4 linked regions of the Homo sapiens genome follow. The protein of the gene in region 3 interacts with the protein of the main gene of each other region in a pairwise test. Each region holds a gene or a part of one and is shown on either strand. Other genes may lie near its edges. The genes, in order: USP20, FAM161B, TTC23L and EFHC1.

The links.
Region 1: the proteins of TTC23L (region 3) and USP20 interact in binary tests that used the Homo sapiens proteins (3 or more experiments, as listed by UniProt).
Region 2: the proteins of TTC23L (region 3) and FAM161B interact in binary tests that used the Homo sapiens proteins (3 or more experiments, as listed by UniProt).
Region 4: the proteins of TTC23L (region 3) and EFHC1 interact in binary tests that used the Homo sapiens proteins (3 or more experiments, as listed by UniProt).

The regions. Positions count from the first base shown.
Region 1 is NC_000009.12:129,876,575-129,884,337, forward strand, and holds the end of USP20 (ubiquitin carboxyl-terminal hydrolase 20), read left to right. Parts: intron 1-1,763; coding exon 1,764-1,866; intron 1,867-2,998; coding exon 2,999-3,070; intron 3,071-3,538; coding exon 3,539-3,699; 3' UTR 3,700-3,715; exon of another isoform or gene 3,716-3,892; 3' UTR 3,893-5,254; downstream 5,255-7,763.
Region 2 is NC_000014.9:73,938,358-73,946,120, forward strand, and holds part of FAM161B (protein FAM161B), read right to left. Parts: intron 6,529-7,763; coding exon 5,978-6,528; intron 4,359-5,977; coding exon 4,012-4,358; intron 2,697-4,011; coding exon 2,569-2,696; intron 1-2,568.
Region 3 is NC_000005.10:34,845,664-34,853,426, reverse strand, and holds part of TTC23L (tetratricopeptide repeat protein 23-like), read right to left. Parts: coding exon 7,754-7,763; intron 3,243-7,753; coding exon 3,119-3,242; intron 1-3,118.
Region 4 is NC_000006.12:52,434,849-52,442,611, reverse strand, and holds part of EFHC1 (EF-hand domain-containing protein 1), read right to left. Parts: intron 4,309-7,763; coding exon 4,021-4,308; intron 1-4,020. UniProt on the Homo sapiens protein: Microtubule inner protein (MIP) part of the dynein-decorated doublet microtubules (DMTs) in cilia axoneme, which is required for motile cilia beating.

The sequences.
Region 1 (7,763 bases), on a different chromosome or scaffold from region 3:
GTTTCAGTGAGCTGAGATTGTGCCACTGCGCTCCAGCCTGGGCAACCGAGTAAGACTCCATCTCAAAAAAAAAAAAAAAAGAAAAAGAAAAGAAAGGAGTCTTCTGCGGGGAACTAGATGGCCAGGTGTCTAGGAGGGCTTTTCCTGGTGGGAGGGTTGGCTTGAGTAAGTGAAGCCTCATCGCCCGGGTGCTGTTGAGCTTAAAGAACCAGTAGATGGATCCCATTCTCAGCCTTGGCTGTGTTATTTTGGGCTGAATTATTCTTTATTGTGGGGCCGTCCTGTGCATTGTAGGATGTTTAGCAGCATTCTTGGCCTCTACCCACTAGTGCTAGTGACAACCAAAATGACCTCCAGAGATTGCCCAGGGTCCCCTGGGGTGCAGAGTACCCTCCCTGCCCTGGGTGAGAACCACTGGGCTCTACAGACTGCCCAAGATAAAGCAGGAAGTGAAAACCAAGGTGCAAACCAGGACTCAAGTGTGACTGTGTTTAGAAGAGGGACTTCTGTGAGGGAGCTGAGTGCAGGCGAGGCTCCTGGCGCACTCCCTCCCTGCCACGCTACTTCTAACAGGGTTAGGACGTGTTCCACTCACAGGGAGGGCCTGGTGAGAGACACTGAGGGACGCCCGTGCTTTGTGGCCATTAGGAAATGATTCTGCTGCCTGGGCATGGTGGCTCACGCCTGTGATCCCAGCACTTTGGGAGGCCGAGGCAGGTGGATCACTTGAGCCCAGGAGTTCAAGACCAACTTGGCCAACATGGCGAAACCCCATCTCTACAAACAATACAAAAATTAGCCAGGCATGGTGATGTGTACCTGTAGTCCCCGCTACCTGGAGGGCTGAGTGAGTTGGGAGGATCACCTAAGCCTGGGAGGTTGAGGCTGCAGTGAGCCGTGATCATGCCACTGCACCGCAGCCTGGGCAATAGAGTGAGACCCTGTCTCAGAACACAAACGAAAAAGAGACTGTCAGGGCTGGGCCTAGTGGTATGCACCTGTGGTCCAACCTACTCAGGAGGCTGAGGTGGGAGGATCACTTGAGCCCAGGAGGTCAAGGCTGCAGTGAGCCATGATTGCGCCGCTGCACTCCCGCCTGGGCACAGAGTGAGACCACCCCCCATCTCGAAAAAGAAAATGCTCCTGTCAGAAGGAGAGCTGCCTCTCTGAGCAGATAGGCACATTCTATTCAACCGGAGAAAATTAGCATCTCCCAGGCCGGGCGCAGTGGTTCATGCCTGTTATCCCAGCACTTTTGAGAGGTCGAGGTGGGCGGATCACCTGAGGTCAGGAGTTCAAGACCAGCCTGGCCAACATGGCGAAACCCCGTCTCTACTAAAAACACAAAAAGTAGCCAGGTGGTGGCACACACCTGTAATCCCAGCTACTCAAGAGGCTGAGGTGGGAGAATCGCTTGAACCTGGGAGGCAGAGGTTGCAGTAAGCCGAGATCGCGCCACTGCACTCCAGCCTGGGTGACAGAGTGAGATTCCTTCTCAAAAAGTAGAATCTCCCTTGTGGTCTCAGTTGGGTCAAACAGTTATTGAAGAGACCCACAAAATGTTACCACCGTCCTCTCTGAGTGATGGGTGTGTTCATTTTGTTTGAGCTTGTCTGGGGGTTTGATTTTTCACCTTGAGTATCTGGTGTTTTTGTAAGACTCTTGGGTGAGGGACTGGGGCGGGGGCATTTGGGAAATCCTTGCTGAAGGTAAATAGAGACTGACCTGCCCTCTGTCTCCTCCCGTCCCTGCCCGCCTGCCAGTTGAACAAGGCCTTCCAGGCCGAGGAGTCGCCGGGCGTCATCTACTGCATCAGCATGCAGTGGTTCCGGGAGTGGGAGGCGTTCGTCAAGGGGAAGGACAACGGTGAGCTGAGGGGGGACCTGGCACTTACCTGCCCTGGGGGCCTCCTGGGAGATGGGATGCTGGCAGGGGAGGGCTGGCACACAGGGGCTCCTGCAGGCCCCATGCCTGCCCCCAGGTGCCACCCATCCAGGGTGAACAGAGAGCATGGGGCTTTGCCAGTCCCCAGTGGGGATCACTGTCCCCACCCAGAGGCAGGAAGCTGCTCCTGCTCTGCGCCCCCTGCCCTTCTCCACTCCCTGCCATGCCCAGCAAGCTGCTCTGCCCTCCTGCAAGGCCCTTTCCTCAGGGGAGTGTGTCGCCCGAAATGACAGATTTGTCATCTGACTCCTTGGATTTACAGAGGTGGAGACAGGCCCCATCACAAGCTCCCAGGGTCCCCCAAGTCCCCAGTGAAGAACAGCAGAACCAAGCCATGGAAGCCCACAGGCTCTAAACTATTAAACCTGCATTAAAAATTTCGGCTGGGGCGCCCTCGGGGCATAATCTAACCTGTGGCTCCGGGGCCCGGCAGGGTGGGTAGAGCCCACGGTTCTGCTCACGGGACCCTTGGTGTGGAGCATGAGCACCCACCTGTGCTTGGGAAGGGAGGCCTCATTGCCATCCCGCTAGTCGGGGAAGGTGCCAGGGCCACCGTGAGGCCTCTCTGGTGGTGGCTGAGGCCTTCAGCATGGCTGTGGTTGAGAATGTAGCTCCGGAGCCCTCGCCCTGGCCTGGACGCTGGCCTTGCCTTCTACCAGCTATGACCTGAGTGGTTACTTCACCTTCCCAGGCCTCGGCTCTGTCTCTGTAAACCTCTGTCTTGTCCTGTGGTTGCCGAGGCTAAATGAGATAGCTGGGCAGAGGGGAAGGGGCGTGGTGAGCGGCAGCTGCCAGCAGAGATAAGGGCATGGGCCATCCACCGCAGCTCCTGCGGCCAGCACAGAGTCTGAGACCATCTCGTGTGTCCTGGAAATTCCCTCTGCTGGGTCCTCAGACTGCCACAGAGGAGCATTGGGTGGCTCAGGCGCCTCATCCATTAGAGACTTCACGCTGACCCCCAGGCCTGGGGCGGCCCCACTTGGGATGGCTCTGCTGCTGTGGAGGGTGGAGGGCATGGCAGGGGCTGAACCCGAGCCCGCTGTGTCTGTTGCAGAGCCCCCCGGGCCCATTGACAACAGCAGGATTGCACAGGTCAAAGGAAGCGGCCATGTCCAGCTGAAGCAGGGTGAGTTCCCCCTGGGGTCAGCCAGGCTCCTCTCTGCCCTTCCTGGCTGCCAGGCTGCTGCCCAGTCCCGTCCTTCCAGGAGCCCCCTTACCACCTGTCTTAGAGTCAGGCTGAGACGTCCACCTGAGTCCAGACCCAGGCGGCTGAGAGATGGCCCAAGGGGCTTGGTCTCTGCTTGTGTCCTCCAGGTCCCACCCCTCTGCCTGCTGCTGGCCTTGCCCACCCTGCTGTTTATGTCAGCCCCACCCCCAGGAACAAGGGACACAGCCAGAGATGTGTTATCCGGGGCCCTTAGCGGGATGGACATTCCTCTGGGAAATCCTGATTTCCATCTGACAGCTTTGCATAGAAGCCCTGGTTGCCGTCTTCCCGCTTCGGGGCCTGGCCCTGCGGAGCCCCCACTGCCCAGGCCGGTGGCTTCCTTGAGGAGGCAAAGGTGAGCCTAGGGGTGCCTCTCGTGCCCTGCAGGAGCTGACTACGGGCAGATTTCGGAGGAGACCTGGACCTACCTGAACAGCCTGTATGGAGGTGGCCCCGAGATTGCCATCCGCCAGAGTGTGGCGCAGCCGCTGGGCCCAGAGAACCTGCACGGGGAGCAGAAGATCGAAGCCGAGACGCGGGCCGTGTGATCTGCTGGGCTAGTCTGTAAGTCGCCCCGGCTGGTCCCTCCATGGCACTCTGGGTCCTCTCCTCACTCTCCAGAGACCCTCACATGTCCTTTTGAACATCCAAAGAGCAGGTCCCTGAAAGCACCTTCCTGGAGGATGTGGGAGGGCCCTGGACATGGCCCGGCCCCACTGCTGAGTGCCCGTGTCCCCACAGCCCCATGTGCCCCACCCCGCGGAAGGCGTGTTTGTGCCCAGAAGAGAGGCCGGGCTGCTGCAGAACCCCGCCGTGTAAAGAGGCAGAAAAGTTGGTTTGGTTTGCAGTAACGCTGCAACTAGAAAATATATGCACTTCAGGCTTGTTGAAACGACCAAGACTCTGTGACGTTAATTTGGGTCTTTGTCCTGGCAGTGCCTCTGCCAGTCACTGTCATCGTTGTGTCCCCCACAACTGTCCTCTTGCTAGCTCGGCCCAGCTTTGTCCCTGGAGCCCGATGCTACCCCTGTCAGACAGAGGCTGCGGCCTGGGCCAGAGTCAGGGAGTAGCTGCTGCTTCACGGCGTCTCCACTGTGCGATTGGCCCGGAGCCCCGAAGACTCGGAGGGAGCTGCTCAGGGCCGGTGAGCGCAGCCAGAAGCCCTGGCCAGTGAGGAGCTCACAGGTCCTCCCTGGTGGTCCCGCCGCACCTCTGCATCTCCTGGGCGTCACCAGGAAGGCTCTGAAGTCCCGGGCTGCTCTCAGCACTTCTCCTGCAGACTGAAGACTCTGGACTCATTGCTGATTGGAACACCAGGAGGAGGTTGGATTTCTGCCAGTGGGGGATGTTTCTGGAGGCAGCTGGTCCCCCACACCGCGTCCTGCTGAGCCTGCCCCCTGGATTGGCTGTAATTTGCCTCGAAGTTCAGCAGTTCATCTTCATGGGAAATTTGCTGAGCCCCCACCAGGGAACCGGATGATGAAACAGGGATACCTCACAGCTTGGCCATTTGAGGCAAAGGCAGCTTCCCGAGCTGATGCTAAAGAAGACAGACTTTCCCTTCCTCCCAGCAGCAGCAGTGCAGAGCCCACCTGGAGGGATGTGGGGGCTGTGCAGGGTGCAGCGCTCAGGTGGATCCTGGGAAGCAGCCTCTGGATGCTGAGTGGAGGGAGCCACTGAGCACAGCAAGGCACCAAAGCCCCTGGAGAAACCGCCAGGGCGAGGTGCGACCATCATCAGGATCAAAGCAGACGGGGCGTGGGTGGGGAAGGGGCTCTGGGACCAGACCCCCCACACTACTGCGTCTTTGTTTCTATCAGTCTTTGTAGAAGCAGGTGGTGGTGGAAATTCCAGCAGGTGGGTCCCGCAGAGGCCCTGAGGCCTCACTTTTCGGATCTTCTGTCCCAGATCCTGCTCCCTCCCTGCTGAGCCTGGGGTTCCCCTGGCATTGGCCCCAGCCTTCTGAAAGCCGGCGCTGCAGCCAGAGGCCGCACGCTGCACTGTCGCGACGCAGAGAGGCTTCTGTGCAGGCTGGGATCGGGCCCCATGTCTGTGCTGTCTAGTTTGTGTTCAAAATGTCAGAATAAACACAGAATAAATGTTCCCACGGCCACACAGTCGTCTCTCCTTCACTGCAGTTCTGTTACTGGAGGGAAGGTGAGGCTCTCCGCCACGCGGACAGCCCGCCAAGCCCTGGGGCTCACATTGCACATCACCAGGCCCAGGAGGGGGCTTTCCATGTGGCTTTCTGAAACCAGAGACCACCTGGAGGCTGTGGAGGTGAGCAGAAGAGGGGACCCAGCTGCTATAAAGGCCTATTGGCATCTCCTTTCCTGGAATCAGCCCCAGCCTCAGAGAAGTAGGGCCAGATGTGGCCAGTGATTGAGGCCAGCACATCCCACAGGCTAGTCTCCCTCCAGCCACCCAGACAGGCGGCTCCAGAGTGGCCGTGAGCAGGGGGTTACCTCCCCTTTGCACACTGGCCCTGGGCGTTCAGCAATACTGGTGTTCAGTAGTCTGAGTTTTTTGTTGGGTCTCATTTTGGGGGAGAGAAGAACTTGAGATTTTTATATATAACTTATCAACATTTATTTGTGAAATCCCATTGTTGCAGGAAAAAGGGGTTCCGATCCAGACCCCTAGAGAAGGTTCTTGGATCTCATGCAGGAAGAAACTCAAGGTGAGTCGCAGAGTTCACTGAGAAGAGTTTACTGAAAGCTGCTCAGGTACAGAGTAGAGCGTCCTCAGAAAGCAAGTGGAGGGATGCCCGTCGCTGTTTTCAACTCCTCTTATGTAGGGGTCTTAGCTATAGAAAAGCTACGCTGTGTCTGTCAGGTGGGCTGACAGCCTGACACAGTGGATTGCTCTGTTGATTTAAAGAAAGCCATCCTTGGCATCTTAGTGCATAAGCACATCGAAGCCTCACTGTGGTCATCTTCAAGCATACACTGTTGTGTGGCATCTGAACCTTCTCCATCGTAGGAGTTTGTCCTCGCAGGCGTTACGTAGCTGCTTCCTCAGACGTAAACATCTTAGGTTGTGACTGGCCTGGACTGTGCCTAATTTTTTGTTTTTTGAGATGGAGTCTCGCTATGTTGCTCAGGCTGGGGTGCAGTGGCACGATCTCGGCTCACAGCAACCTCTGCCTCCCAGGTTCAAGCGATTCTCCTGCCTCAGCCTCCCAAGTAGCTGGGATTACAAGCATGTGTCACCACATCTGGATAAGTTTTGTATTTTTAGGAGAGACAAGGTTTCACCATGTTAGCCAGGCTGGTCTCGAACTCCTGACCTCAAGCGATCTGCCTACCTCGGCCTCTCAAAGTGCTGGGATTACAGGTGTGAGCCACCGGGCCCAGCCTCCCTTGCTAGTTTTAGGTGGAGCCGAACTCAAAATGATGTCACCCTGGCTCCCCTAGGCTTCTGCTTCCCTGCCGCTATCAGATACGAGCGTACAGAAACATTTCAGCGTATGCAAGGATAACACGGTGACAAGGAACCAAGATGACACATTGCCAGTTCCATGGAAAGCCTGGGGCCCCTCCGGAGTCGGCCACCTTGCCTGACCCCAGAGGTGGCTCTTTGCATGTGGTTCCCTCATCCCGCCTTTTTTTTTTTTTTTTTTCCTGAAAAAAGCTTCATTTTATTATTATTTTTTGAGACAGAGTCTCACTCTGTTGCCCAGGCTGGAGTGCAGTGGTATAATCTCAACTCACTGCAACCTCTGCCTCCTGGGGTTCAAGCAATTCTCCTGCCTCAGCCTCTGGAGTAGCTGGGTCTACAGGCATGTGCCACGACGCCTGGCTAATTTTATTTTTTATTTTATTTATTTTTAGTAGAGACGGGGTTTCACGGTGTTAGCTAGGATGGTCTCGATCTCATGACCTTGTGATCTGCCTGCCTCAGCCTCCCAAAGTGCTGGGATTACAGGCATGAGCCACCACACCCGGCCAAAACATCATTTTAAAATTGAGCTTTCTGACTGTGCTCCTGCCCTTAACACCTTCCCAGCAACTTTCTGCTCCTTGATGAGGAAGGCACACTTGATCCTGTCGGGAACACGTTCACACAGAAGCACCAGATGCACTGCTGATGGGTTTTTTGTTTGTAGACAGGGTCTCACTGTGTTGCCCAGGCTGGCCTCGAACTCCTAGGCTCAAGTGATCCTTCTGCCTCAGCCTCCCAAAGTGCTGGGATTACAGGCGTGAGCCACCACGCCTGGCCGCTTGCTGACATGTTTTTGCTTTGGGGCAGTCTCATAGGAGCTTTAGGTCTCACAGCACAAACCCCTCGGAGTCAGCCCAGGCCCATGCCATGTGCAGACTTTGGCAGTTTCCCAATCTTGGTATAAAGGTAAACGATTCTCTTCCCAGGGGTTCGGGCCGGCCTAGTGCTGTTAGAGGCTGTATTCTAGGAAAGCCTATGACGGTTTGGGAAACTGGGCCATGCTGAGTGCCTGTAGACAGCGTTCCCGGAAGAGGAAAAAGCAACCTTTGTCTTTATGTGGGAATCTCTAAGCAATATTTTTGGCTTTGTTTACATTTGAAGGTTAGATATGTGTCAATCCACGTGATTGACATTGAACATGGAAAATGAGAATGAAAGTTTTGTCTGG
Region 2 (7,763 bases), on a different chromosome or scaffold from region 3:
CTGAGGCAAGAGAATCGCTTGAACCCGGGAGGCAGAGGTTGCAATAAGCCAAGATCGCACTGCTGCACTCCAGCCTGGGCGACAGATCAAATTCCGTCTCAAAAATAATAATAATAATAAAATAAAATAAAATAGCCGGGCATGGTGGCTCATGCCTGTAATCCCAGCACTTTGGGAGGCCGAGGCGGGCGGATCACAAGGTCAGGAGATCGAGACTATCCTGGCTAACACTGTGAAACCCCATCTCTACTAAAAATACAAAAAATTAGCCGGGTGCGGTGGTGGGCGCCTGTAGTCCCAGCTACTCGGGAGGCTGAGGCAGGAGAATGGCATGAACCTGGGAGGCGGAGCTTGCAGTGAGCCGAGATCGTGCCACTGCACTCCAGCCTGGGCGACAGTGAGAGACTCCGTCTCAAAAAATAATAATAAATAAATAAATAAAATAAAGCAATCTTAGTAACCTTTTCTGGAAAGTAAGTTGGTGTTTTTAATGAATGGGGCATGTAATTTACCTCAACTGCCATTTTTAAAAATAATAAAATTCTAGGATTAAATGCACTGGCAGATGAAGCCTTTCCAGCACTAGGGACACAGTGAGTTCCTACCCTAGAAGTGCATTTACTGAACTGGAGAAACGTCAGTTAAAATATCCTTACTTAGGTCGGGCACGGTGGCTCATGGCTGTAATCTCAGCACTTTGGGAGGCTGAGGCGGGCTGATCACAAGGTCAGGAGTTCGAGACCAGCCTGGTCAACATGGTGAAACCCTGTCTCTACCAAAACTACAAAAAAAATTAGCTGGGTGTAGTGGCACGTGCCGGTAATCCCAGCTACTTGGGAGGCTGAGGCAGGAGAATCACTAAACCCGGGAGGCAGAGGTTGCAGTGAGCTGAGATTGCGCCATTGCACTCCAGCATGGGCGACAGAGCAAGACTCTGTCTCGAAAAAAAATATATATATCCTTACTTAAACAGTCCAACATTCAATAGGTCTTCGCCTATCTGGATACAAAATAATACTAATAGCTACCATTTACTGAGCTCCTTATTATGAACCAAGTACCATTACATTTCACATTGTCCTCATAACTGCCTTATGAGGTAAATACTAAATTCCCTTTTTATAGGGGAGGTGATTGAGGCTCAAAGGAGGTAAGCCCCTTGCTCAAAGCTACCCAGCATGCCAGTGGAAAAGCCCCTATTGGACCAGGACCTCTGACTCCGAAGCCTCTGGCCTTGACCACTCTGCTGGAAACAGTGGGCTGGAAGGTGTCTGGGTTCATGGTCCTTTGGGAATACAAATCTGCACATTCAGAGAGAACTGGAAATGAGCCTCCCTCAGTGCAGACTATTTGGGTTCAACTTGTAGCACTTAGTTTGTTCAGTTATCTACAAAGTAATATGTTGAGTTCTTCCAAAAGGAAAATCAACCAAGACTCTTATATTTGGATGTTTATATTCAAATGGACATACTGGGAAGAAGGACATGAAAATTTAATCTGTTAATATGTCAGATTCCCTGTGGCTGGAAAGCAGATGTGGATGTCCTCTATAGGAAGGCCAGCCTCTTTGTTCAGGAGGCCTGTGTTCTTGGGCCCTCAGGATACTGAGCAATTAATTAGCCCTGATTTAGTAGGTCTAACTGAAGTCTGAAGAAGAAAGGAGTATCCCTTGGACCGTAAATACTCTTCTACAATCCCTGCTGTGGGGCTTAACGATCCAAGTAGGTTCTGAGTACTCCCCTACATGCCCCATGGGAAGGCAGTAAGACATTAGTCCTCTCCCTGGCCTAAGCTGCTGTTACACCATGACCTCTCTTGCCTACTTCAGCTCAGAAGCCTGGTGGAAGAACCCTTGCTGGGGGCTGGCTTAATGAGAACATCATAACAGAATCAGGTCAGTTGAAGAGTTAAAAATAAGCAGGCTCTTGCTGCCCAACAGACTCTGACATCTTCCCAAGATGAATCTCAGAGAATCTCAAATCTATGCAATGGATGTCTCATATTTGCGGCAACTTCAGCCACCTGCTAGCATGCTTCTCTGAATTCTTGTTCCTCACTACTCCCTTCCTCTCACCCATGGGCTTTTATCCATGTTCTCTCTGTCTGGAACCTTCCTTCTCTCCAGGCTTTGTCTGGCGAACTCTTCCTTGTTCTTCAGTTTCACTTTAGACATCTATTCCACAAGACAAGACCCCCCTGCTCCAGGCTGCCCAGTGCCCTCACAGTCCCCTTTACCCCCCATCATTGCACTACTCAAAAAATATGGCCATTGCTTCTTTGCTTTTCTGTATTTCAGACTAGATAATAAACTGGAGGTTCCCTAAGATCTCCAGCCTTAACACTGTGCCTGGCACAGAATAAGCCCACTATGAATATGTGCTGAATGATGGCTAGCTGTTCTCCAAGCACCAGGTGTGGAGAACCGCAATTGTTCCAGTCCTGATCAGAAAATTCCCTTTGACCCCTTGAGGTATCTCTGATAACAGGAAAGGAGGCCCCTTGGCAGGGAGGTTTCCAGCATTTGGGGCCAGAATCAGAGCATGGGTCTCGTGCAGCCTGACCACTCACCTGACTGCAGATTCCCTCTTCCTGGTGGCATCTGTGATGTGCACAGGGAGAGTGTTGGCAGAGAGGGAAGCAAGGCCGCTCAGAGAACGACTCCTTGGCAGGGGTGTAGCTGGTGGCTGTGGGGAATCCTAGAAGAAACAAAGGTTGGTATTGGTGGGACAGCATGTGTGATTAGTTTCTATCTTTTTTTTTTTTTTTTTTTTTTGAGACAGAGTCTCGTCTCGCTCTTTTGCCCAGGCTGGAGTGCAGTGGCGCAATCTCGGCTCACTGCAACCTCCAGCTGCCTGGTTCAAGCAATTCTCCTGCCTCAGCCTCCCACGTAGCTGGGACTATACAGGTTGTGAGCCACCATGCCCAGCTACATTTTTGCAGTTTTAGTACAGACGGGGTTTCACCATGTTGGTCAGGCTGGTCTCGAATTCCTGATCTCAGGTGATCCACCCGTGTCGGCCTCCCAAAGTGCTGGGATTACAGGTGTGAACTACCGCGCCCAGCCATTTTCTATCTTTACTAGGATTCAGCTTCACTGAAGGACTGAAAATGAGAATCTTCATTTTTTTTCCTGGGAATAAGGCAAGGATAAAGAGATCTCAAGTTTCACAACCAAGCCAAGACTTGGATATCAATCCTAAAGTTTTTAGTCAAATGAGAAGAGTTCCTTGGAATTGGTATAGAGACATCAACAACTGATCCCAACTCCTTGCCTCTCAAGCCTGCTTGGACTTATTTCTGTGAAATCCTTCTACAGTAAGGGAGGAAAAGAAGTGTCCCTATGGTTTCTGTTGTGTTCTGTTTTTGAGATGAACTTTCACTCTTGTTGTCCAGGCTGGCCTGCGGTGGCACAATCTCAGCTCACTGCAATCTCCGCCTCCCAGGTTCAAGCAATTCTCCTACCTCAGCCTCTGAAGTAGCTGGGATTACAGGTGCCCGCCACCGCACCCAGCTAATTTTTGTATTTTTAGTAGAGATGGGGTTTTGCCATGTTGGCCGTGCTGGTCTCGAACTCCTGACCTCAGATGATCTGCCCTCCTCGGCCTCTCAAAGTGCTGGGATTAAAGGCGTGAGCCACCACGCCTGGCCTGTTTTTTGTTGTTGTTTTTAGATGGGGTCTCACTCTGTTGCCTAGGCTGGAGTACAGTGGCATCATCTTGGCTCACTGCAGCCAGAAGGTCCTCCCACCTCAGCCTCCTGAATGGCTGGAACTACAGGTACACACCACCACATGTGGCAAATATTTGTATTTTTCTTTTAGAGATGGGGTCTCTGTTGCCCAGGCTGGGCTGTGGTCTGGAGTTTATAGGAAAGTGAATCTGCTTACAACTGAGCTGGTGTTTAAAAAAAAGATAGGAAAACCTTGTTGAGAAGTGCTTTCCAGGAAGACCTGGCCCCACCCTGTATTTCAGGCCGCAGCCCTGACCCTCCCACAGCTGCCTGGGCTCTCACCTGCCTCCTTCCGGTGGTGGCAGCATCACAGGGCCGCTGAGGGTGGCGCAGGTTGGCGGTCCTCAGCAAGAAGGGCTTGTTGCGAGTGGCCTCTTGGGTTTCTCTTCTTTTGGCTGCTCTTCTCTGGAAGGCCTTGTAAAGGCCCTCATAGTCAGGGACCACAGGATTCACCCGAGGCTGGAATCTGAAGTTAGTGTGCAGAAACCCAAGCTTTTCCTGCTGGGTTCGGGTGGCTGTGCGGGGCTGTGGGTTAGCCCGGTTACTAGAGGAGGCGATAGGGGAAGAGGCCATCTGGAGCATGTCCAGGGCTCTCATTTGGATGCGAATTTTCCTGAAGAGCTCAGCTTCTGTGGAGAAAGGATGGTGATGGGTAAGAAAGGACCAAGCAAGAAACCTACAGGGTTGGAGAACTTTCCCTCTTTTACACACTAGCTGTAAGTGTTACTGGAGGCAAGTAGGAACTTTTCAGGAATTCTGACACGTTAACATCCTGTGAGATGCCTGCAGATGGCCTGAATAGGAGTAATTATGCCACAGAAAATAACAAACATTACAAACCAGCTTCCTTTTTTTTTTTTCTGGAGAGCTTGTTAATAAATGTCATCCAGAACACCACTGCCTGTGTCAATCAGGCTGCAGAAGCAGTGACCATCTACACTTACTGAGCACTTTCTATGATTGCTTCTTCAGAGATGAAGCAGAGGAAGTGGGCCAGTAACCTGCTCCTCTCCCAGGTTTCCCCATCTGAGAGAAAGGCCCTACCATCCACCCAGCTGCCCAGGCCCTTTGCCCACATCACTGACTCCTCCGTGTCTCTCATCAGTCACAAGTTCTGTCATTTCCTCCTCTTTAACCTCTCTCCAGTCCATCCTCGTTTTTTCATCCCTGCAACCAGTTGCACAATTTCTCTACTGAATTGTGAAATAGCTTCCTCTTGGCTCAACATCCCTCCAGTCTTGCTGCCCTCTCAGATTATCTATACAGCAATCAGAAGGATCCTTCTGAACTATATTTCTGATCATGGGCCACCCTGCCTCACTCCCTCAGTGGCTTCCCTGTGCCCTTGGGATGAAGTCCAGACTCGCCAACGTGGCTTGCAAAGCTCCTCATGTCTGGCCCATGCCTGCCTCTTCCTTCCCACTCCCTCTTCTCTCAGCCCTCGACCTTTCCATCCCTTGCAGATGCTCTGCTTTCTCTCCCCTCCATGCCACATTCTGCCTGCTCCACTTCTCCTCCCTCTTCGCCCCTCCTTCAGTTCAGCCCCAGGGCCCACTTTCTCAGGGGACCTTCCCTAACTGCTCCCTTGCTTCACCAATCCCCGGGTTAGGTCCCTTTGATATATGCTCCCATGCTTCCCCTTTTAATCCTTGTAAATAACTCGCCACATTTGTATGTATTTGTCTTTATCTGTTTTCCTCACATATCTACAAACTCCATGTCTGTGTGTTCACCATGGCACAGTGCCTGGAGCATGGCACATGCTACCGAAAAGTGAATAAAGCCTGAGCCCCTTATTTGGAGCTATACTTTTGGAAATGTGTAAATAATCATCCCCCAGGTAATTTCGGCGATTGACACTACCTCACCAGGACGAAGGAGCCATGGGGGAGCATCTCAGGGCAGTGTGCTGGTGGTGGCATGAGCCCAAGCTGGTCCTCAGGTGTCTCACTGGTTCTCTATTCCTGCACCTGTGCTGGTGCAGAGGCCCTCATGTGCATTCACTTAGATGTCAACAGGACGAGCCTTGGGGACACTGTGGGACCTCTCACTCCTGGCACCATACAGGTCCTGATTGTATAGACAGACCTAACCCTCCCCAATGGCCTGCACTAAGCGTGCAGCCTCTAGTGGGTCCACCCAAGCAGCAAATCTCCAAGCCAGGCAGATCCCTGGGCCCTGACTAAATCCCTATGGTGGGATTGGTTCCCCGAGGCAGGAGGCAGCAAGGTGGCAAGGATGTCTTTACCCTGGAGTTTATCCCCAAGGGCTGGCTCCAGAATGGACTTGGGAATCCTTCTGGTGGCCTTCTGCTTGGAGATCTTGGCTTCAGCTGTGGCTGCCAAGTCTCTCTGTCGAGCAGCTTCCTTTAGCTGCTCCTCCTTCTCCAGGAAGCTGAAGGGCTTCAAAGAAGAGAGGAGCAGTTCCTTCCTCTTCTGGATCCCTGCCTGCCTTCGGGCCTCGCTGCGCTCCATGATCTCTTGGTAGAGGGGCAGGTAGACATGTGCAGGCACAGGCTGTGCCCGGAACTGCCTGTGGCACTCGGCCTCTTCCTCACCCTGCCTCTGGGCCCGCTGCCTCTCCTGCTCAAAGGAGGCAGGTGAGCCCAGCCACTCGGCCTTCTTCCGGGCCTCGCGCAGCGTCATGCGGAATGGCCGAGGGACAGTAATGGATGATGCCCAGGAGCTGACGCTTCTGTGCTGGGAGGGAGGCCGGGAGCCTGAGGGTGGCTGGGTCTGAGGCCTGGGAATGTTGGAGGGAAGGTTGTTCAGGGAGCTGCAGCGCCTTGTGGAGCCACACCTGGGAAAAAAGCAGATCTGTGAGTGGAGGACAGGGCAGTCAGGAGGCCCTGCTCCCTCCAGACCTCCTCCCCAGTCCTCCCTTCCCACTGGTCACAGCTGGCTGCTCAGCCTAACACCACAGCCCCACAGGCCTCTATGTCCATGACCTTCCCACAGACAATCCTGGCAGCCCTAATGGAAAGTCTCTTCTCAGAATTGATCCAAGAACTGCCACTTTGCACTCTAATATTTCATATGAGAGAGAGAACAATGAGCAGAGTAGAGCTTTAGAGTCAGACAGACCTGGGTTTAAATCTTGCTTCAAACTTTGAGCAAAGTTCTGTTAAAACCTCAATTTCCTCCTATGTAGAGTGGCAAAAATTAATGTCTACTTACCAGGTTATTGGAGGAGAAAGTAAATATTAAATAAGATAAAGTAATGAGATAATGTACACTTTATCTCATTCAATATTTACTTTCTAAGGCTTGACCAAGATAAAGGTACTTTGTTGTCATTCTCAGGGAAAGTGTATTTAGGAAATGCTTCCCTGTATTTTTTTTTATTTTTTATTATTTATTTACTTATTTTTTGAGATGGAGTCTTGTACTGTTGCCCAAGCTGGGCGTGATCTTGGCTCACTGCAACCTCCACCTCCCAGATTCAAGCAATTCTCTGCCTCTCCTTCCGAGTAGCTGGGATTACAGGCACCTGCCACCATGCCCGGCTAATTTTTTTATATTTTTAGTAGAGACGGGGTTTCACCATCTTGGCCAGGCTGGTCTTGAACTCCTGACCTCATGATCCAGCCACCTCGGCTTCCCAAAGTGCTGGAATTAGAGGCGTAAACACGGTGCCCGGCCCATTTTTAAATTTTATTTTATTTTTATTTGTTGAGACAGAGTCTTGCTCTGTTGCTCAGGCTGGAGTGCAGTGGCGTGATCTCAGCTCACTGCAACCACCACCTCCTGGGCTCAAGGGATTCTCATGCGTCAGCCTCCTGAGTAGCTGGGATTACGGGCACACGCCACCATGACTGGCTAATTTTTGTATTTTTAGTAGAGATGGGGTTTCACCATGTTGGCCAGGCTGGTCTCGAATTCCTGACCTCAAGTGATCCGCCTGCCTCAGCCTCCCAAAGTGCTGGAATTACAGGTGTGAGCCCCTGCACCTGAGGAAAGGCTGCCCTTTAATTAATTCCAGTGCATCACTGGACTAAGTGTTGCCCAAAGTAATTCAGGATTCCTGGGGAGGAA
Region 3 (7,763 bases):
CCCGAGTAGCTAGGATTACAGGCACACACCACTACACTTGGCTAATTTTTGTATTTTTAGTAGAGACGGGGTTTCACCATGTTGACCAAGCTGGTCTCCAGCTCCTGACCTCAAGTGATCCACTCACCTCAGCCTCCCAAAGTGCTGGGATTACATGCATGAGTCACCACACCCAGCCACTACACACTACTTCTGATCAAGCTCATCCACTCCTATGGCCTCAACTTGCTCCTATGTGCTCATTTCTCCCAGACTAACATCTTTCCTGAGCTCTAGACCTGCTTTCAGAAACCAAACTCAGTAGCTTCTTCCCCCTTCCTCCATGATATGGTTTAGTTGTGTCCTCACCCAAATCTCACCAGGAATTGTGGCTCCCATAATCCCCACGTGTCATGGGAGGGTCCCAGTGGGAGGTAATTCAATCACAGGGGCAGGGTTTTCCCATGCTGTTCTGGTGATAGTGAATACATCTCATGAGATCTGATGGTTTTATAAACGGCAGTTCCTCTGCATGATCTCTTGCCAGCCGCCACGTTAGATGTGCCTTTGCTCCTCCTTGGCCTTCCATCATGATTGTGAGGCCTCACAAGCCACATGAAACTGTGAATCCATAAACCTCTTTTTCTTTATAAATTACCCAGTCTTGGGTATGTCTTTATTAGCAGCATGAAAACAGACTAATACACCCCACCACTTGGTCTTTCCCTTTCATTCTCGATTTAAGCTAATTGTCCAGGTCATGCCTACTTCAACTTCAATTCTTCCCTGTCCTTCCCACTCCATACTGAATGGGGCACTAAATGTCACCCATTCTACATTTTAGGTTATCTTTCTTCATTCCAACTGCCATACCCAATGCCCTCATCGACTCTCATCTGGGCAGGATAACGGCCTAACTGGTCTTTGCCTCTTCTTTCTCTACCCAGTCCAACCCATCCTGGAGTCTCTCATTTTATAACACAAGCTTGATTATTACCACCTCACTTCAAACCTTTTAATAACTCTCCACACTCCCTGATATCTGGGCCCAAATTACCTTTTCAGTCCCATTTCCAAACATGAGCTGTCTGTCCTAAGGTGTCTTCCGTCCTACCTTAACCCCCTGGGTCTACAGAGAAGCTACAATATTCTGTGTAACGAGTTTTATACAGAGTGCCCTCCTCTCACTTCCTATGCCTTAGATCAACATATATAAAGGACCAACTTTGTACTCTCTACTTCTCCCCTCAAAATCTACTTGGGGGCCAGGTGCCATGGCTCACGCCTGTAATCCCAGCACTTTGGGAGGCTGAGGTGGGAGGATCACTTGAGGCCAGGAATTTGAGATCGGCCTGGGCAACGTAGAAAGACCTTATCTCTACAAAAATAAAAATATAAAAAGTAAAAAAATCTACTTGATAAACCTATTCTCATTCTTCAAAGACAGGACAAATATCACTTTCTCTCGGCAGCCTTCCCTGACTTTCCTCAATGGCAATACCACTGAACTGCCTCCCCAGAATTTTGTTCCTACCTCTAGAATGGTACCTATCATAAGACCCCTGTGTGCTCCTAGAGCATAGGGACCACCAATATTCATTTATGTATCCCCAGCACTGACTGCAAGTGCCACCAGGCTTATAACAAGAACTCCATAAGTACTGAAGGAGTAAATCCCTAAATTTGACTCTTATCATGAAGGCAGTAAGTTTTTGAGAAAATCAGTCTGATGGGAATAGAGAGATTCCAAGTAAGGAAGCACGGAACGCCACTAGGGGAAGATCCTTCCTGGTCACTCTGAAATTTCATAGAGGTGGCTGCCTGCTCTGCCAGTACATAAGGACATTCTCCTCTCCCTAGCCATAGCACCTTCTTTCAGAACACAACACGTGTTCTTAAAGCATAAAAGGGCCTCGCTGTGCCCCCACTGTGACCCACAGCATCACTGTCCTAATGCTGTGATCTCAGCTACCTGTGATCTTGCCACATCAATAAATGAATCTAAAGTTGCATTAAAAATAAATGGGTGTAAAAGGGCCTATAGAGCCCTAAGAAGGAGAATATATTCTGAGATCAATAACTGAGAAGTGAACTCAATTTTAATTTTTTCAAAAGCTTTGCTGATATCCAGCCTCATTATGGCCCAAATATATTGCTTCCCTTTTCCTGTAGCCTTCAAATCACTTAAGCCCATAAAGCATTTAATTTGTATTACAAGTTAGGCCCCCCTTCAGACTGAGGTCCCAGAGGTACTTGAACAACCCCTAGGCCAGTGGCTCAGTTCATAAGCAGTAATATGCCAAACCATATTGTGTACAAAGGACTGTTCTAGATCAAATGAGACCAGTCCCGCCCTGAGGGAGCTTCTATGTCAGAGGAAGAAGCATTTAAAGCATATATGAGCACAGTACAATGAGTTCCACGGTGAAAATGTATGCAGACCACACAGGGGGACATGGCTGGTCAAGGAACAGAGAGTCTTGAGCTGGCTATGTCCCTGGTTCCTGAAATGCGCTCTCGCCTCAGTGTATCACCCAATATTTATTCAGCCTGTACTACAAACTTTCTACTCTCAAGGAACTTTCACTTGGGTTCAGTTTTAGCAAATAGATTCTTGTCTTATTCTCTTATACTAGAGTACCTTCCAGAAGTACCATTTCTCTAGGATGAGGGTCCTACCTTTCACTAAGCCAAACCTTCCAGGAACTTGAGTTCTACCTTTGGAATTCAAGTCCCATTATTGGGTCTGCCTCCCTGATGCTGAGTGTACATCCCTGCCTGTCCTTCCCCTACTGTCCTCCGGCTGGAACCCCTGATACTGCCCTTTGCCCACTGTGCTCCAGTGTCCTCATCCATAAACTGAGGTTACTAATAGTATCTCCCTCCAAGGAATATTGTGAGGACTAATGAGACCAGTTTGGCACATGCTAAATACTCAATAACTGTCATCATCATTATTATCTTTATTACTTAGATCCTTGCACACTGTCTCCCTCATCCATGGACTTTCCTTCCTGATAATGTGTGAGCTAGGGGCAAGAAGGGGCCCTCCTAGTCATGCCCATCCTCACTGAGGTTGTGTGGGTCAGTTCAGCCTTCAGAGGCTGGCCACCCAAACCCAGCTGGGAAAACCAAGTACCTCTCAGTGTCAAGTAGCCATAAGCTAGGTTGGCCAGAGCTCGTGCACATTTCCAGTGATGGTCCCCAAAAATAATCCGAGAAAGGATGACACATCGAATCAGCTCCTTGTTTGCTTGAGTATTCTGTAGAGTACAGAAGTGATTATACTTTTTGGAAAGGAAGAGAAGTCTCTACCCCATGGACTTATCACTGGAACACAGGACTGAATTCACCTGTCATCTTTTTTCTCTTCTCTTTCCTTCTCATCCTGTGTCTAATCCATCAGGTCTGGTTGGATCCACATTCCCCCTAAATCCTAAAACCAAGCTCTTCTCCTCATTTCTGCCATGAGTACCTAGTCCAGGCCACCCTCACCTTTGACCTGGCTGGCCACAGCAGCCCCTTCCAATTGCTTCCTCTCTGGCCCTCACAGTCTACTTTCTACATAATAGCCAGAGTGACTTCTTTTAACCTTTTATCATGAAAAACTTTATTAATATACAAAACAGACAGCATGAAAAATGAATATGTAGCGTGATCAGTGATCTACTCCTGGCCAATCTTGTTTCATATCTAGACCCCTCATCCACCCATCCTCACCTTAAATTGAAGCAAATCAGACATTCCATTGTTGCCTCTGTTAACATTTCGTAAATACCTCTAAAAGATATGGACTTAGAAACATACCACAAAATCATTATCTCACCAAAATATTAACAATAATTCCTTATCTAATCACAGAAATGGAATTTTTTAAATAATTTGTTTGACTGTCCACACTGTGAGATCAGTCTCTTTTCATCTATAGGTTACTTTTCCATCTCTAGTTCTTTTTCTTACGAATTATTTGAAAAAGCTGAGTCATTTGGTCTAGTATTTCCCACAGACATAAATTTTGATGACTGCGTCCTCATGGTGTCTCATCATGTCCCTCCATTCTCTGTTCTGCCTTTATATTAGTAGTTGGGTTTAGAAGTTTGGTTAATTTCAGCTTTGAATTCTTTTTTTTACAAAACGACTTCATGGCTACTGGTATGTTCTTCCAGCAGAATACATCTACTATCTGGTTGTTTTTTCTTTTTTTTCTCTGATATTAGGAAAACTACATGGAAAATTAACAAAAGATTATAAAATGCAAATATACTAATTCTATCATTCCTTCTTCATACATTAGCTGGAATAATTCTGTAAGGAGAATTTCTCCTCCTCCACTCTTTGGTTACCCAATAGTACAGTTCATGTTGGAAAGGCAGGACACATGGTTTATTCTTGCCCTTTACTAGCTTTCAGAAAAATGAATTGTTCACTAGCATCCTCTAATTGTGATCAAATAGCTTGTTATTATTATTAGAAACTTATGGATTTTAAAACGTATTTTATGTGTTTATATCTTAAGATATAAATTAGATCATGACTTTCCTGTTCAAAATCCTCCAACAGCTTCCCGCTTTTTCTTCTTAATATAATTCAAAGTCCTCACCATGGCTTCCAAGGCTCTGCATAATCTGACCCAATGCCAATCACCTCTGGACTTCATTTTCTACCACCCTTTCCTCCTACTCTGTCTGCTAGAACTACACTGACCAGCGGTTCCTGAACATCACCAGCTAACTTCCAATGTAGGGCTGTGCACGTGCTGCTCCCACTGCTTGGGACACTCTTCCATGTCATTCACTTTCTCATTTCATTTTCACTTTTCTTATCAACAGGCCTTTTTTGGCCACCTTATCTAAAATAGACACCACTTCATCACTCAATATCCCATTACCTATTTTACTTTTTCTTCATAGTACTTACTTCTATCTAATATTTTATTAGCTATTACTATTGTTTGTCTATTATCTCCCCAAATAGAAGATAAGTCCCTTGAGGACAGAAGTTTATTCCTCATGTTCGCTGTTATCTGCCCAGTACACACAGGTGTAACACATTCAATATTTGCTGAATGAATCATTTATTAGCAAGGTTAAAGATGGGTTGGGGAAAATAATCCTCTACCCCTATAGAAATGACAGGTAGAGCTCTCTAAGAAATCACCGAACTGTATCTTCAAGTCATATATTTCAGTGACTTTACAAACACAGCCATTATTGGCTGAACGAGTCGATAGGGTCAGGCATTTTTTTCCTGGTTAAGTGAAAATAGCACTTCAAGGAACCAAAAACCTAAAGTTTCAGCCCTGGTTCTAATGTTTGTTTACTGATTGTGTTGCTTTGGGGCAGGCCACTTTGATCTCAGCTTCCTTTTCTGAGGTTTGGAAACCTGTACCATCTACCTCATGGAGTTACTGTAAGGAAAAAAAAATAGTGTCCAAATGATTCAGTGTTGTTAGGTCAGATCTAAGTGTAACCCGTTTGAAGAATAATGTACAGGTAACCAAAGTAACCCATTTAAAGAGTAATGTTAGATAAGATACAGCAGTACCATAGGTTATTCCAAGGAATACACTCCTTACTGATTCCTATCTCCTACCCAACTTCATGTTTTACCTGCCCCCTGCTCAAATATACAGAAGCAAGCAATGGTAGAAGGAAACTTCCCCTGATGCTTCCAAAACATCCATTTAGTCAGCATTTTTTAGAGTTCACCATGGGCTGACCACAGCAAATACTAAGTTCTCTTTCGAGGAAGAAGCATCATGCCATGAAAAAATCACTGGAATGGGAGACCAAAGCTTTGGCTCTGGACATTGTATATTCATCCTCGAACTCCTTGACTTGGAGAAACCGGGACAACCAATACGGGCTCCAGATGTCATCCCAGCACTTCTGCTGCTGATGTGGCATCCCCTGCCCTTCAGGGCTAGGAGTACTAGGTTGGGTTTGATTTAAAAAAAAAAAAAAAAAACAGCGTTATTGAGCTATAACTGATATACAAAGAACTGCACCTGTTCACTTTATACAATTTGATGAGCTTGGGATTTGAGTCAGATTTCTCTCCTAAGATCTAAATCTTTGTCATTATCCAATCTGGCCAAGGAGTTTTTAAGCCTTGAAAACCCCCACTTACACTCCATGGCAGATGGTACTTGTGTGTTTTTAGAAATGATCCTTCTAGCCTGGATTTGTGAATCACTAATGGGTCCAGGCCAGGATGACTGTCCTTTGCAAGGTCCTTGGGTCATTTACAGAGATAAATTTACAAATATCCATCTAGAGAGATACTTCAGAGGCAAATGATAGAAAATGAAACCTCTCTAGATTACTTTTTTCCCCTTGGCTAGGAGGAGCCAGGAAGTCAAGGTACAAGCTCTTCTGTTGATAAATCATGCTCTGGAAGCAGGCTGGTGCCTGTGTTCTAATAATGAGAGTCGACGTCTTGCTGTCTCAGTCTCCTGGATTTTGAATACTCATGCTTACAAACCTGCTCTGAGATCTTTGACTCAAGTCTTTGACTTGCTCTTAGAAATGCATATTTGGAATCTTTGACCTCCACTGCTACCTTCTGTTTCTGGCCCTTTGGTTTGTTTATGATTCCACTGTAACCAAGGGCATCTTACCCATATCCTTTCCAGGCCAGAGCTTAGACCTGCCTGCCTACCTGTTCTCAACCTCCTGCCTTACTATCCCAGCCTTTTTGTTACCTAAGAGATAGCATCCTGAAACCTTCCAGGATGGATACACACACACACACACACACACACACACACACACACACACATACACACATATATGTATTTGTATATATACGTATATATGTATATGTGTGTGTATATATATGTGTGTGTATATATATATATATATATATATATTTTTTTTTTTTTTTTGAGACAGAGTCTAGCTGTTGTCGGCCCGGGCTGGAGTGCAATGGCATGATCTCAGCTCACTGCAACCTCTGCCTCCTGGGTTCCAGCAATTCTCCTGCCTCAGCCTCCCAAGTAGCTGGGATTACAGGCATGCGCCACCACGCCTGGCTAATTTTTGTATTTTTAGTAGAGATGGGGTTTCACCATGTTGGCCAGGCTGGTCTTGAACTCCTGACATCAGGTGATCTGCCCACCTTGGCCTCCCAAAGTGCTGGGATTACAGGTGTGAGCCACCACGCCCAGCTATTTTTTTTTTTAATTTTAAGTTAAAGGTAACAGCAACAAAAACAATCAAATGATAATTTTTAGGTTTTTCAAATTTTTACTTTATTTTCTTAGAGACACAGTCTCATTCTGTTACCCAGGCTGGAGTGCAGTTGCACAATCACGGGCTCCCTGTGGCCTCAATTTCCTGGGCACAAGCTGCTATCCTGTCTCAGCTTCCCAAGTAGATGGGACTACAGGCTCCCTCCACCATGCCTGGCTGATTTTTAATTTTTTTTGTAGAGACAGGGTCTCACTATGTTACTCACGCTGGCCTCAAGAGATCCTCCCGCCTCGGTTTTCCAAGGTGTTGGGATTACACGCATGAGCCACTGCACCTGGCCTAATTTTTAGTTTAAAGCTAGGACCAGAAATGCCCCAAGGAGGAACAGACAATGAACCATGCATGGAACCAGAAGGTGGGCTGGCTACCTAAGTAGGCTCTGCTTTGTTTTCTGCTACTTACAAAGAAATATGACACCTTCCTCTATTTCATATGCTTCAATCTGCATCGAAGGCAAAGCTTCTCTAAACAGGAACATATTTTTAAATGGAAACAAAATTTTAGTGAGTTTTTTGTTTTACCATTTTTTCC
Region 4 (7,763 bases), on a different chromosome or scaffold from region 3:
GTAGGGACATGGATGAAGCTGGAAACCATCATTCTGAGCAAACTATCGCAAGGACAGAAAACCAAACACTGCATATTCTCACTCATAGGTGGGAATTGAACAATGAGAACACTTGGACACAGGGTGGGGAACATCACATACTGGGGCCTGTCATAGGGTGGGGGGTGTGGGGAGGGATACCACTAGGAGATATACCTAATTGAATGACAAATTAATGGGTACAGCACACCAACATGGCACATGTATACATATGCAACAAACCTGCACGTTGTGCGCATGTACCCCATAACTTAAAGTATAATAATAAAATAAATAAATAAATAAACTAGGTATTAAAGGAACACACCTCAAAATAATCAGAGCCATCTATGAAAAACCCACAGCCAACATTATATTGAACAGGGAAAAGCTGGAAGCATTCCTCTTGAAAACTGACACAAGAAAAGGATGCCCTCTTCCACAACTTCTATCCAAGACAATATTGGAAGTCTTGGCCAGAACAATCAGTCAAGAGAAAGAAATGAAGGACATCCAAGTAGGAAGAGAGAAAGTCAAACTATCCCTGTTTGGAGAAAACATGATTCTATATCTAGAAAACTCCAGAGCCTCATCCCAAAAACTCCTTAAGTTAATAAACAACTTCGGCAAAATTTTAGGACACAAAATCAACATACAAAAATCACTAGCACTCCTATACACCAACAACAGCCAAGCTGAGAGTAAAATCAGGAACACAATCCCATTTACAACTGTCACAAAAAGAATAAGATACCTAGGAATACAGCTAACCAGGGAGATGAAAGATCTCTACAATGAGAATTACAAAACACTGCTTAAGGAAATCAGAGATAACACAAGCAAATGAAAAAACATTACATGCTCATGGATACGAAAAATCAATATCTTTACAGTCACCATACTGCCCAAAGCAATGTACAGATTCAATGCTATTCCTATCAAATTGCCAGTGACACTCTTCACAGAACTAGAAAAAAATACTTTAAAATTCAATGGTACCCAAAAAGAGCCTGAATAGTCAAGGCAATTCTAAGCAAAAGAACAAAGCTGGAGGCATCATGTTACCTGCCTTCAAACTATACTACAGGGCTACAGTAACCAAAACAGTACAGTACTGGTACAAAAACAGACACATAGACCAATGGAATAGAATAGGGAGCTCAGAAATAAGGCTACACACCTATAATTATGTGATCTTCAACAAAGTTGACAAAAATAAGCAATGGGGAAAGGTGCTGGGATAACCTGCTAGCCATATGCTAGCCATATATCTTACACCAGATATAAAAATCAACTCAAGATAGATAAAAGACTTAAATGTAAAACCCAAAACTATAAACACCCTGGAAGACAACCAAGGCAACACTATTCTAAACATAGGAATGGGCAAAGATTTCATGACAAAGACACCAAAAGCAATCACAACAAAAGCAAAAATTGACAAATGGTATCTAATTAAACGTAAGAGCTTCCGCAGAGCAAAAGAAAGCATCAACAGAGTAAAAAGACTATCTAAAGAATGGGAAAGAAATATTTGCAAACTATGCATCTGACAAAGGTCCAATATGCACCATCTATAAGAAACTTTAATTTACAAGAAAAAAAGCAAAGAACCCCATTAAAAAGTGGGCAAAGGACATGAACAGACACTTCTCAAAAGAAGACATACACATGGCCAATAACCATATGAAAAAAAAGCTCAACATCACTATCATTAGAGAAATGCAAATCAAAACCACAATGAAATATCATCTCACACCAGTCAGAATGGCTATTATTAAAAAGTAAAAAAATAACAGGTGCTGTCAAGGTTGTGGAGAAAAAGAAATGTTTATACACTGGTGATGAGAGTATAAATTAGTTCAACCATTGTAGAAAGCAGTGTAGTGATTCCTAAAAGACCTGAAAACAGAACTACCATTTGACCTAGGAATCTCATTATTGGGTATATACCCAAAGGAATATAAATCATTCTGCCATAAAGACATACCCGCAAGTATGTTCATCGCAGCACTATTCATAATAGCAAAGACATGGAATCAACCTGAATGCCCATCAATGGTAAACTGGAAAAAGAAAATGTGATACATATACACATACATATACATATACATGAAGGTGCCAGATTTTTTGCATTTTTGTGTTTTTTGTTGGTGATTTTGCTGTTTAAAGGGTCCCAGTGCCTAGTGATGAAGTGCTATTTAGTGTTCCTAAGCACAAGAAGGCTGTAACACACCTCATGGAGAAAATGCATGTCTTAGATAAGCTTTGTTCAGACGTGAGTTATAGTGCTGTTGGGTGTGAGTTTAATGTTAATGAATCAACCGTATATATTAAATAAGGTGTCTTTAAACAGAAACATACATGAATCAAACTTATGTATTGATCAGTTGACAAAAATGTGGCCAGAGATTAGTGGGAACCTAACCCTGTATTTCCTCTAAGACTAGTGGTTCAGTATTCACTAATTCAGTGTTTGTGGTGACTTTATAGTCCTAATTACTGTCAATAATGAGAACCGACTATAAATAGATTAGGTCAAACGCTCAGTGATTAACTTGCAAATGTTCAAATTGCCCATAAAAACACAACTGTAAAAATAATTGTTATGAAAACACAACTGTAAAAATAATTGTTAATACATTTATGTTTAGATAACATTTTATCATTTCTCACTGTTGGTACAATTGTGAAACTGCCTATGATATATAAGACCTCAGACACCTAAAAAGCAAAGAGATAAAAATATGTTGGAACGGGAGAATATCTCAAAGATGGTCTAGCACCTCTACTTTTGAAGCTATTTTTCTCTATTGCTTTGGAATGGCACTGATGCCATGGCTCCTTTCTTTACTTCCTTCAGGCCTCTATTCATATGTCATCTTATCACTGAGGCATTCTCTGATCCGCCTCTATAAAGAGCCCCTCAACTTCCATTCCCTTTACTCAGCTTTATTTTCCTCCATTGCTGTTATCATCATCTGACATATAACCAATCTATTTATTTGCTATTGCTTATCTCCTCCAACAAGATTGGAACCTCTATAGGGGCAAGTACCTATAACATGCAAGGAAAGGAGAAATGGTGCACTATTAGCTTGTCATAGTCATCTGAAAAATATCAAGTACCTTCCTGAAAACATCTGGCACCTAGAACAGTGCATGGAACAAAGCAGGCATGCAAATAAATATCTGTTAAACAAACTACTAAATGAAAACAATAATGGATTCATAGGAGCTCAGTGCATGGTAAAAATTAGTCACATATGGCACTAGGTATCCTGGAATAGGGACATAAAATACTTCAGAAACTATATCTTTGCTGCTAGAAATATTTTTTTAACTAAGACAAATTTGGAATTGACTTCCTAATTCCTACACTTTGTAGTAAAGAAAGGCCACCTATATCCTCTATGCATGTAACTTTAATAAAAGTTTCCTTTGTATTAAAAAATCCAAACTTACGAAATAGAGGACTTTTTACATATAGAAGAGGTTTTTTCATTTAAAAATGGTTTCATTTCAGAAATTCTTTAGATGGTAAGCTTTCCTAGAATATAGCAAGTATCATTTACCAAAAATATATGAGCTACACAAAAAATTTTAGGCTCATATCTGCTAATAGAAGTAGTGCTATTTTTGTAAACTCACACTTAAGATAAAACGTTTAATCCCTCTTCCATACTTACATCCCAGCAGGGATGCTATTCCCCTACTCCCTGTTTGAACTGCCATTTTAACCTGGTTTCTTACCAAATTATTCAGCTATGATGAGAGTTTGATTTTGAGTGAATAAGTATTAATATCATTCTGAAAAAATTATGTTACTATTAGTGTTGGCACATATTAGCACATACACACATGCAAATACCTAGCCATTCATAATAATTCATGCAGGACAGATTACCAATGTCCTCCCCTTACCCTAATAAATGAAATGTATCCTTCTATAAATTAGAATGATGCCTCAGACCCCACAACTTTCAAAAATATATGCTATACCTGTGTGAATTGGTCACAGTCAACAACGCGGAAAGTTTTGCCATAAATTGTGATGTTTATTCCTCGATTTAGGTCTTTCCAATGGTAATGGTCACCCCGGTCATTCTTGGCTAGCCGCTGGCGTTTTATTAACTTGCCTTGAAGGATTCCAGAATTTTCTACAACAGGCTCTATGACAGACATGCTGTCATCTTCTAGATAATAGTAAATGTTCACCTGACGGATCCTATACTGTTCCTCAGTTGACATAGGAACATCTTCTTGGAAATAGGCATCAAATTTCAGTACCTATAACATACAAGGAAAGGAGAAATGGTGTACTATTAGCTTGTCATAGTCATCTGAAAAATATCAAGTACCTTCCTGAAAACAGAACCACACAGGGAGATTTTAACACTCATCACTTCTATCCTGTAAATCTTGATACTCTAAAACTACAGATACTGCAAACTATAGTCCATGGGACAAATCTAACCTGCCACCTGTTTTTTTTATGACCTGCAAGCTAAGAGTGGGTTTTACATATTTAAATGGTTTAAAAAATTTTAAAAAATGTTTCATAACACATGGAAATTATAAAAATTTAAATTTTCAATCCACAAATAATTATGTAAATAATTTACGCTTTTTTGTTAACAGCTGCTCTCCCATTACAAGGGAAGAGTTGAATAGTTGTGACAGAGATACACAGACTAAATTGTGTCCCCCTCATCCCCAAAATTCATATGTTGAACCCCTAACCCTCAATGTGACTATATTTGGAGACAGGATCCTTAGGAGGTAATTAAGGTTAAACCAGATCTTAAGGATAGAGGTATGCCACCTTTAAGTCTAATCCCATAGAACTGGTTGCCTTAGAAGAGAAGAAGAGAAAGAGAGTTACTTCCCTCCCCTAACTCCCACATGTACACACCAAGGTAAGGCCACATGAAGACATAGCAAGAAGACCGCTGTATGCAAGCCAGGAAGAGAGCCCTCACCAGAATTCAAACCAGCTGGCACCTTGATCTTGGACCTCCAACCTCCAGAACTGTGAGAAAATAAATTCTATTATTTAAACCACTCAATCTGTGGTATTTTGTTGTGGCAGACTACGCAGGCTAAAACCACTGCAATGGCCAAAATATACGCTAACTGCCCTTTACAGAAAAAGTTTGCTGACATCTGCTTTAAATACTCACAATGTGTATAAACTATTTATTGCATATGTTCCTTGGTGAGAATACATCTTAAAGGACTTAACTCTACTAGCTTCACCTCCATGTCAAAAGTCCCTCCCAGAACTTCTGGGAAGAGTAAAAAATCTTGGATAAGATTGCGATTTTTGGTTTCAAACTGAAAATGAAGGGTTAATTGCACTTCTTTAGAAGTGTAGTCCTTTGTAAATGTATATTAATTACGTTCATTATTATAAACTTTATATGAATGACTTTCACATCATCAATCCACTACAGAATCTTTGAAGGGTGTGTACATACCCTCATCATCAATCCGCTATACAATCTCTAAAACGTGTGTAAATACCCTCCTTGTGCTCAGGAACATATATATTACATTGAGCAAACCATTGGTCCTCTGGGGAGCATCATCATCAATGTGAAGTCAACATGGTATCAATATATAGATTACACATTTAAAAAACATAAACTATGCCAGGCGTGGTGGCTTACGCCTGTAATCCCAGCACACCGGGAGGCCAAGGCAGGCAGATCACCTGAGTTAAGGTGTTTGAGACCAGTCTGGCCAACATGGTGAAACCCCGTCTGTACTAAAAATACAAAAATTAGCCAGGCTTGGTGGTGGGCAACTGTAATTCCACCTACTTGGGAGGCTATGGTAGGAGAATCATTTGAACCCAGGAGGTGGAGGCTGCAGTGAGCTGAGTTAGCGCCACTGCACTCCAGCGTGGGTGACAGAGTGAAACTCCATCTCAAAAAAATAAAAAATAAAAAGCATAAAACAATATTATAAAAAGAATATGTTAACATGCTTTGGGATTTTTAAATTTCTGTTATTTTGTCTCTGTTTTTAATGTGTCTTTTCAAGGAGAGAAAGTATTAGAATGGGATTCTAAGCAGGCAAGATAGTTTACCCAAGCCTCTACTAGAATAAGAGGAACAAATCAAGAAGATCCTAAATGAAACAGAAATATGGCTTGATAAATGGAAAGATGAAATAATTCTATACACGGACACTGTTGCTAAAAAAAAAAATGGGTAGCGTAACTACTGTGGAAAAACAAGATAAAAACCAAGAGAACTGGCAAGTGCATACAAGTGCATAGGAGAAATGTGAATATAATGAAGGCCTTAAAACTCATAATAAAAAGATAAAATGGATAAGTGCAGTGGAATGTTTGAAGGAGAAAAATAACATGGTAAAAGCAAAGGACAGATAATGTTGAAGTAACATTTTAGATCAACTGCAAAGAACTGAAAGGGGGGACATGATCATAGTAATTCATATATAAAATGGCCTGTATCTGAGCCATATATTTATAAATACATAAAATGTTAAAGCTGAACTGATCAGCTAGCCCAACCCCACTTATTTTATAAAGGAGGAAACTGAGACCCAGGGTGGTAAGGTGGCGTGCCTGAGGCCATGTAAGGGGTTAGGGCCAGAACTGGAACTGAAATTCAGACTATTAACTCACAACCCAATATTCTCTCCACACATCTTGCTACTTCTCAGGTAACAAATGCTATCGTGGTTCCAAGAAGGAATCTGTGTGGACTAAAGTGGTCAGAGAAAGCTTAACTAGGAGGAAACAAAAGATGTATTAGACTTGAAGAGTGAAAGATTTTAGATCAGCAGAGGATACAAGGGGGGCTTCTAAGCAGTGGTAATAACAGAAGCAGAGGAAGGAAACCCAGCAGCAGTATGCAGGCTATGATGGAGGAGGAAGTACTAGGCATGGCAATCAGACTGGAAGCCCCTTCAATAGTCCAGGTCTGCAGTAATTAATTACCAGCAATGGAAAAGCAGAAGTCTGACTGGATTGATAGTAAGGAAGTGGGAAGGTGGAAGCAGATGAGGTGTTGAGGAAAACCCAGTGCTGGCGATATAGTGGTGATCTCATAGAAATGTAAACATAAGGAGAAGATAATTTGGGTATGGCAGATGGTGAGTTTGATTTTAGACTTACTGAATTTAAGTGACAGCACAAGTTGTATACTGCAGGGGGTAATTTATACTGCAGGACTGGGTTTAGGGGAAGAAGTAAATATTACAGAACATTCAAGGATAATGCAAACATTTTTGGCCAAGCAACTGAAAGCATAGAATTACTATCAAATTGATATGAAGAAGATTGCTGCAGAACAGATTTTGGGGGTAAGAAGACAAAATTGGGAGTTCAGTTTTAGATATGCTTAATTTGAGATATTTATTAGACATTCAAGATGAGATGGCAAATAGGCATTTATGTATACATATGTTTAGAGGACAACTTATCATCATAAAGAGGACATTTCAAGCCATGAACCTGGACAACTCACCAAAGGAGTGAGAAGAGAATCACAGAGAAGATAACCAAAGATCAAGTCTGTGGCCACAGCCATGCTCCCAAACCATCTGTTTTCTAAGATTGGTGGGCATGAAAATGCCTATGGCAACAGGAAGTTGGCCTGAGAATGGGAGGCAAGGAGATACACATATATATATGGTCTTGTTATATGTGTGTATGTATATATATATATATATATGGTCTCAGGTAAAGAATATGCTAACCGAAAAGAATT